2 linked regions of the Homo sapiens genome follow. The protein of the gene in region 1 interacts with the protein of each later gene in a pairwise test. Each region holds a gene or a part of one and is shown on either strand. Other genes may lie near its edges.

Region 1 (3,827 bases):
GCCACTGCACTCCAGCCTGGGTGAAAGAGCGAGACTCCGTCTCTAAAAAAAAAGAATCTGTATTTATGCTTTGTTTTTAGCAAATTGTGACATTGTTTTGTGATATTTCTAAATTGTGGGATATTCTTGCCCATACTAATGTGTGACTATCAGAGATAATATTGTCTCTAATGTAGGTAGTCAATTATTTTTAGTGTGTAATAGAAATCTGTCTTGTTATTCACAACTCAAGTGCATATATGACTGTAACCTGTTGTACTTGAGTACCTTAGAGATTTCCCTTTTGCTTCCCTTCAACTCTTGCTATCTCCATTCTATCCTCCAGACCTTAAAGACTTATGCCACCTAAACTGCTTTGTAAATCTCATCAGCAGCTTAATTACAAATCCAACTAACATGGCTGATGCCTTGCTCTTAGCTGACTGCTGACCTGCTCTGTTATTTGGGTGCTAGCCCTACCTCCATGGGCTTGCCTCTTAAATATTTGTCAAGCTGTCATCTGGTTTAAAGTACAGACCAGTTAGTGGTTCTTTCCAAATCAAATATACTTGTTAAAGCTGTATTTAATGGGGTAAGGGTTAAGCTGCTATAACAGAGTTGCTGTTTTTTGCTGTAAGGTTAAGTGGCTTGAAGAATACAGAAGTTTATTTCGCTCTCACTTAACAGCCATCTCACTGCTCATCTCAGTTCAGTGAGAGGGTCAGTGCCTCTCCATGAGGTAGAGACGTGGGGCCCTTTCATCTTGCGGCTCCCCCAGCCTCTAGGGCATTGATGTTGTCTGCATGATTCAGTCAAGTCGCCACCTCTTCCAGGTTTCAGAGAAACAGGGAGGGGCAGAGGTACACCCCATATCTTAAGACCAGGTCTTTGGAAGTAGACCACAACATTCATTGCTGAGAAGTAGTCAGCAGTGACTTGATTGCAAGGAGGGCAAGGAAGTGTCATCTAGGTGGGCAGCCATGCAGCCAGGAAGAAGGGAAGAATAGAATTTGATGGAGATCTAGCAGTCTCGACCACAGGATATCTTATGCATTTTCATTGTTGGCTCTTTGATCAGATCTTCAAAACTAACAATTAAATTACCTCTTTCTTTTTCAGGCAGAGTTGGGCCTAAATGAGCACCATCAAAATGAAGTTATTAATTATATGCGTTTTGCTCGTTCAAAGAGAGGCTTGAGACTCAAAACTGTAGATTCCTGCTTCCAAGACCTCAAGGAGAGCAGGTATCAGAGGAGGACTCTAAGCAAACCAAATAGGAACATGGATTCTTTCTGGTAGCCAGTATGGGGGTGCCATAGCAGAGGCCAGACAATTTCTGGGATTCATCATGATCAATTATTTGCTAAGAGCAGCTACACTAAGCCTCATGGATACAGGAAACAAAAGAAGTTGTATTGTGGTGAAAGCAATGAATCTATTGTCAGAAATGCATGTGATAATTGTAGGATAATTGTAGGATGGCAGAGTTTGAGAAGGAAGTTGCCAAGGGTTTGTGGATTAATGATTGGCTTGTTGTATTGAAGATTCCAGAACTTTAATTACTTGAGTTATTAATTAAATGGTTAGAGCTATAAGACATGGCAATTAGTGAGAAAACACTTCTGTGTTTCATACTGAATAATTAGTAGAGAGGAAAACAGCAGGAAATCATAATGCTGACTAGTACCAAAATTGTTAGTTGATTTCTAGCATGAGATGATAATGGTTGGACCGTAGCTGATTTGTAGCAAGAGATGAATGTCAAGTCAGATATAAGTGAAAAAGACCTCCAAGTGAGCTCCAGCTGCCATAAACTCATGAATGTCTCAGTATTAGAGGCCATCAGCCTTAGACCATTCAGTCCATTAAACTCATCTGGTAATCTGGTTTCCTATCCCCCAGCAGATGAAAGCAACAATTTAATTGGCGAGAACATATGTTCTATTGAAGAATATAGAAAGATTATTAATATTTTAATAAGGATTTATATTTAAAAAGTTGTGGTTTTTTGAGAATGACTAAATTCTGCTGGCTAGATGAAACATTAAAGAATTATAAAACAAATACTATTAACTTGAGTTTAACTATGATAATGCTTTAGTGTAACTGGGTCTTGCTTGATGATGTCTTTTTGGAAGTAGGGAAGAAAATAAAGCTGAGGTTGCGGTAGCTGCTCTTCATCTGCTGAGAATCTGAGGGAGAAGGGACTTTGGAGGGTAGAGGTAGGGAGAGGAGAGGACTGTGTTACTGTGATACTGTCATTGAAACTGGAAGGCACACACAGAAGCTTTTTCAAGGATTTAGCTGTTGGGCATGAATCCTTTGCCCAGAATCATTGCTGAAGATGATTGTGGGGTTTAGTCACCACCAATGTAACCATAGGCAAGTCATCTCCACTCTTCAAACCTGTGTTCCTATCTGTAAAGTTAGGGGATTGTAGAAGATGGCACCAAAGTTCTCTTCCAACCCAAGCATTCTCTATGTAAGAGTAGTTTTGTTTTTTTGTTTGTTTTTTTGAGACGGAGTCTCACTTTGTCGCCCAGGCTGGAGTGCGGTGGCATGATGTCGGCTCACTGCAACCTCCACCTTCTGGTTACAAGCGATTCTCCTGCCTCAGCCTCCTAAGTAGCTAAGATTAAGGCACGTGCCACCACACCCAGGTAATTTTTTGTATTTTTAATAGAGAAGAGTTTTTGCTGTGTTGGCCAGATTGGTCTCGAACTCCTGACCTCAAGTGATCCACCTGCCTCTGCCTCCCAAAGTGCTGGGATTACAGGCATGAGCTACCATGCCTGGCCCTGAGAGTAGATTTCTAATGCTATTGTTGATGATGATATTCATTTTTGTGGAGTGTTCAGTAGAACTTTAAGATAAGCTAGTTTTTATTATTATTATTATTTTGGGTCTCAAGAATGCAAAGAGAAGCAATATATATAATTACCATTTATTTCCCATAGACGTTTACTAACCTGTGAATAGTTCATACAGTTATTAAAATGTTAGAGAAATATTAGAAAGAAATGAGACTATGCCTTCCGGGTGACTTTTGAAATTATTAAATGTAATAAGACTGATTTCAGTGGAGTTTGAAATAAGACATTTAATACTAAAAAGTTAAAAAAGTAGATGATGGTTTTGGGAATGTGTTTGAGCATTTACTTGTATTAAAGGATGTGCACAATTTAATCATTTGAATAGATGTCAAAAATTAATTGAGTTTAAATTATTTTCAATGTTTATTAATAAAGAAGATAGTTCCCAGAGAGATTTTCACTGTAATCTTTGAATTTCTTAGATTACATGAATGTGGGTTTCTTAATTTTGCTGTATTTTGTAGATTTTTCTTGTTGTTTTTCTATAAGTTTTGGATCATGGTTGTTTTTCAGGCTGGTGGAGGACACCTTCACCATAGATGAAGTCTCTGAAGTCCTCAATGGATTACAAGCTGTGGTTCATAGTGAGGTGGAATCTGAGCTCATCAACACTGCCTATACCAATGTGTTACTTCTGCGACAGCTGTTTGCACAAGCTGAGAAGTGGTATCTTAAGCTACAGACAGACATCTCTGAACTTGAAAACCGGTAATAAAATTTGAACTTGCAACTGTGACAATAATGGCCCAAGCATAATCTTAAAAGTTAGTGAACATCTTTGGCTGCATATTTTCTTGGGGCTAGTGTGTGAGGAAATTTGGGTAGGGTAACAGCAAAGCATTGAGTCACTGAGTGATCTCTTGGGTACCACTAAGCACCCTTTTAAAAGTTCTCTGTTTCTACTGTTCCTAGGTATTACAAAGGCCATCGAGATTTATGAAATTGCTTTTCAGGCTATCATTAATTATTTCTTAC
Region 2 (3,211 bases), on another chromosome or scaffold:
ATATTTTCTAGTCTGCCTCTCCTAACTACCTTATGCATCAATGTAATAAACTTCCTAGTGTTCACCTTGACATTGAATTACACACTCTCATAATGCTAACTTCTTACTGGATTTATGTTGTCTCCTACAAATATTTTAAGCTAATTACCCATGTTCTCCCACATACTTATGTCTCAGAGCGTTGGTGGAGAACACTGACATCCCAGGCATTAAAATGAGGTGGTGTTTGGTAGATGGTGGCTAATCTGCATTTTGCCAAAGCAGCATCAGTAGGTGGTCCAACAATAGTATCTCAGGCTTACTAAGCATCTGTCCAGATAACAGGGAAGAGCCAGCTCAGTCAGTGTTACTGTCTCTTCTGGGCTCCCTGACTTGTATTTAGAGCGCAATACCAAGTTGCAGATCCAACTGCTGGATGACAAAGTTTTGGGAGTTCCTGCCCTCCAACCGGACGCACAAAACAGCATCATCTCTAATCAAATTGGTTCAGTGTAAATGGAGGGTTTATAAAATAGAACGCAATCTCAGGCAAAGTCTCTGTTCTTCCACGTATCTGCCTTCATCAAGTGACTCATGAGACAATCACAGGATCGGCAGGAGTGAGACCTAGGAAAGATATTCAAGTAAAACATGTTTCTTAACTAGTTCTGTTTCTGGTGATTGGAATTTGCTTGATTTTACTTACTAATAAAATTTTTGCTGCTTATATTTTAAGTACATCTGAAAAACCTGATTATGAAGTTAGAATCCGTATTATCTCCTCGAATACTCTTAGAAAGCAATGTCTCTCTATAAAAACATGAGGAGAAAAAGACTTCTACAGCATCTTTTTATTGTCTTTACCATTACTTTAATGCATTTTAAAATTTATCTACATTAATTGGGAACAAAGAAAAATAGACATTTCTTTGTTTTTCATAAATAACTAATCTTCATATTTGATAAAAATCTCAAATGATTATTTTACCTTCCCACAAATATAATACATACAAAATTTTTCTGAAGTAAGGTCAACAAATTAAGTATCTTGAGACTAACATAACCACATACAACTGCTGTTTCTACTGACTCCCAGGAACGAAGCAGAAACAAAAACTCATCAAGCTGCTCTGGGTTTCCTTTTGTAAGTGTTACAGATTCAGAACTGTAATCATGTATCATCTGCCAGTAATAACATATGGATTCAAATTGATTGTCTACAAATAAAGTATCGCTGGCTCTAGTGTAACTTCTGGATTTAACATAACAGTGACTACAGCATGGGATAGGCACTATACATATATGGAAATCATAAACAGTATCGAATGCCCTGGACTTCAACTACTGACTCGGTATGTGCCTCATTTGGCTCAGTAATAAATTCACCTGCACCAAACCCGTATCAAAAGTCACCAAATCTCTCATATATATATATAATATATATTATGTATATATACAACCCACAAAACATACATACTATACATAGTTTGTAACAACATGAAGTCATACTGTCTTAAAATGATGCACTCACAGACAGACACTATCCTGGCTGAAATAAATCCTATTGTCATCAGGCTGCTAGCTTTTGAGAGTCTTGACTCAGGTTAGCTACTTATATTCTGCCTACTCTTCACCCTTCTTTAACGTCTTGGCAGTTCTTTCAGAACCACCCTCCGCAATCCAGACAGATTTGTTTCCCAGGATCACTTGATTGGACTTTGGAAACAAGAAAGAGCATGCAGAGGGAGCAGGCAATTCTTAGCCACTGTCCCTCACACCTGCCTATACGTGTGATGTGCTCTGTCCTGTTGGCCACATTTAGTGTTAGAAAGCAGTTATTCAAAGCTCTGTCCCTCCTACCCCCCTTGGGCTTTCTGTAGAGCACAAAAGTGAAAGAAGCTTCTTTGGCTGGGGTAGCAGTTCATTAAAATATACAACTACATTTCCTAGCTCTGGGGTTCCCATTCTGTACTGGAGAGTGCAGGTCACGGATGCTGTTATTAAGGTTTGGTGTGTGATCCATGAGGTTTTCTCCTGGCAGCCGGTGTCAGGATTAGCGCAGCTCCAGCCCAGGAGGCAACAGCCTAATGAATACCAACTTTGAAACAGTGCTGTCGGCACGTTATTTAAGCTTGTACATGCCCACAATTACACACAACACACACATGGGCCTTGGTCACTGGCAATGGTCATGAGAAAATATGAGAAAGGTTTGCAAGGAAAACCAATAAGGCACCAAGAAAAATTATTTCCAGTCAATTTTACCATTTCAAAATGTGAGAAGGAAAATCATAGAAATTAAAAAGATTTCCTAAAATCTGGTCAGCTAATTCACTGAGAGGTCCCATTAGTTCCTTTAGACAACCTACCTGAATGGAATCCTTACCCCCTAAGCTATGAAGTGAGGCATTGCTTAAAATCAAACTGAAAGGGACAGCCCTGAAGCTGTACACATAAGAGACTCCAATGGGCCCTAAGTCCTCCCCAGCTCCACAAAGCTGGCTGTGAAGAAGTTGCTGAACTACTCCATAACCTTTTATTTTACAGTTGCTTTCATGAGCATGACTTGTTTCCATAATCACATGCAAATTGGGGGAAGTAACTATATGGATGGAAACAGGGGGTGGCTGTAAGTAGATCCAGTTTCTCTCCCCTGGGGTGGCTGATCTCAGTAAGACTTAGGGATGCAGGTGGGCTTTTATCTTTGTCTCTCTTAGGGGATGAGGGAAGAGAGGGACAGCAGAGGTGAGAACAGAGACAAAGAAGTGCTTCTGAAAGTTGGTCTGGAATTAGACCCCAAAGATCCTGACTAATATTGCCCCCCACTTGGGCTTAGCGTCCTTTGTTTTAACTGGCTTATTTTTAAAGTAAATTAGTTGTTCAGCATGTTGCTAAAACAAAACAAAAAAAAATTCTAAAAATGAATTAAATCACTTTCATCCACTTCATCCCACAACTTTTGGATACACTGTGCATCATTTCCAGATTTCTCCACAAAGAAGGAGGGACAACCCAAATGAGGCACAATGACTGAAGGCAGCAGAGCAGTCTGTCTACTTTCTGGGAAGACATATGAAATGAGGGAAAAGGTCAAGGTGATCAGAAAAGGTTCTCTCATTTGAAAAACAGGAGAGGAATTGGCATTCAGTCAAGGGATCTATTTCAAGATTCTAGGAAGAGGCTTCTTCCTAGAAGAATAAATAGAGGAATAAAATAGGCACAAAGTTCTGTA

The links.
Region 2: the proteins of LZTFL1 (region 1) and FZD5 interact in a two-hybrid assay, tested with the Homo sapiens proteins (one large-scale study listed by BioGRID and IntAct).

The regions. Positions count from the first base shown.
Region 1 is NC_000003.12:45,835,323-45,839,149, reverse strand, and holds part of LZTFL1 (leucine zipper transcription factor-like protein 1), read left to right. Parts: intron 1-1,098; coding exon 1,099-1,223; intron 1,224-3,365; coding exon 3,366-3,560; intron 3,561-3,827. UniProt on the Homo sapiens protein: Regulates ciliary localization of the BBSome complex. Together with the BBSome complex, controls SMO ciliary trafficking and contributes to the sonic hedgehog (SHH) pathway regulation. May play a role in neurite outgrowth. May have tumor suppressor function.
Region 2 is NC_000002.12:207,761,771-207,764,981, forward strand, and holds the end of FZD5 (frizzled-5 precursor), read right to left. Parts: 3' UTR 828-3,211; downstream 1-827. UniProt on the Homo sapiens protein: Receptor for Wnt proteins. Functions in the canonical Wnt/beta-catenin signaling pathway. In vitro activates WNT2, WNT10B, WNT5A, but not WNT2B or WNT4 signaling. In neurons, activation by WNT7A promotes formation of synapses.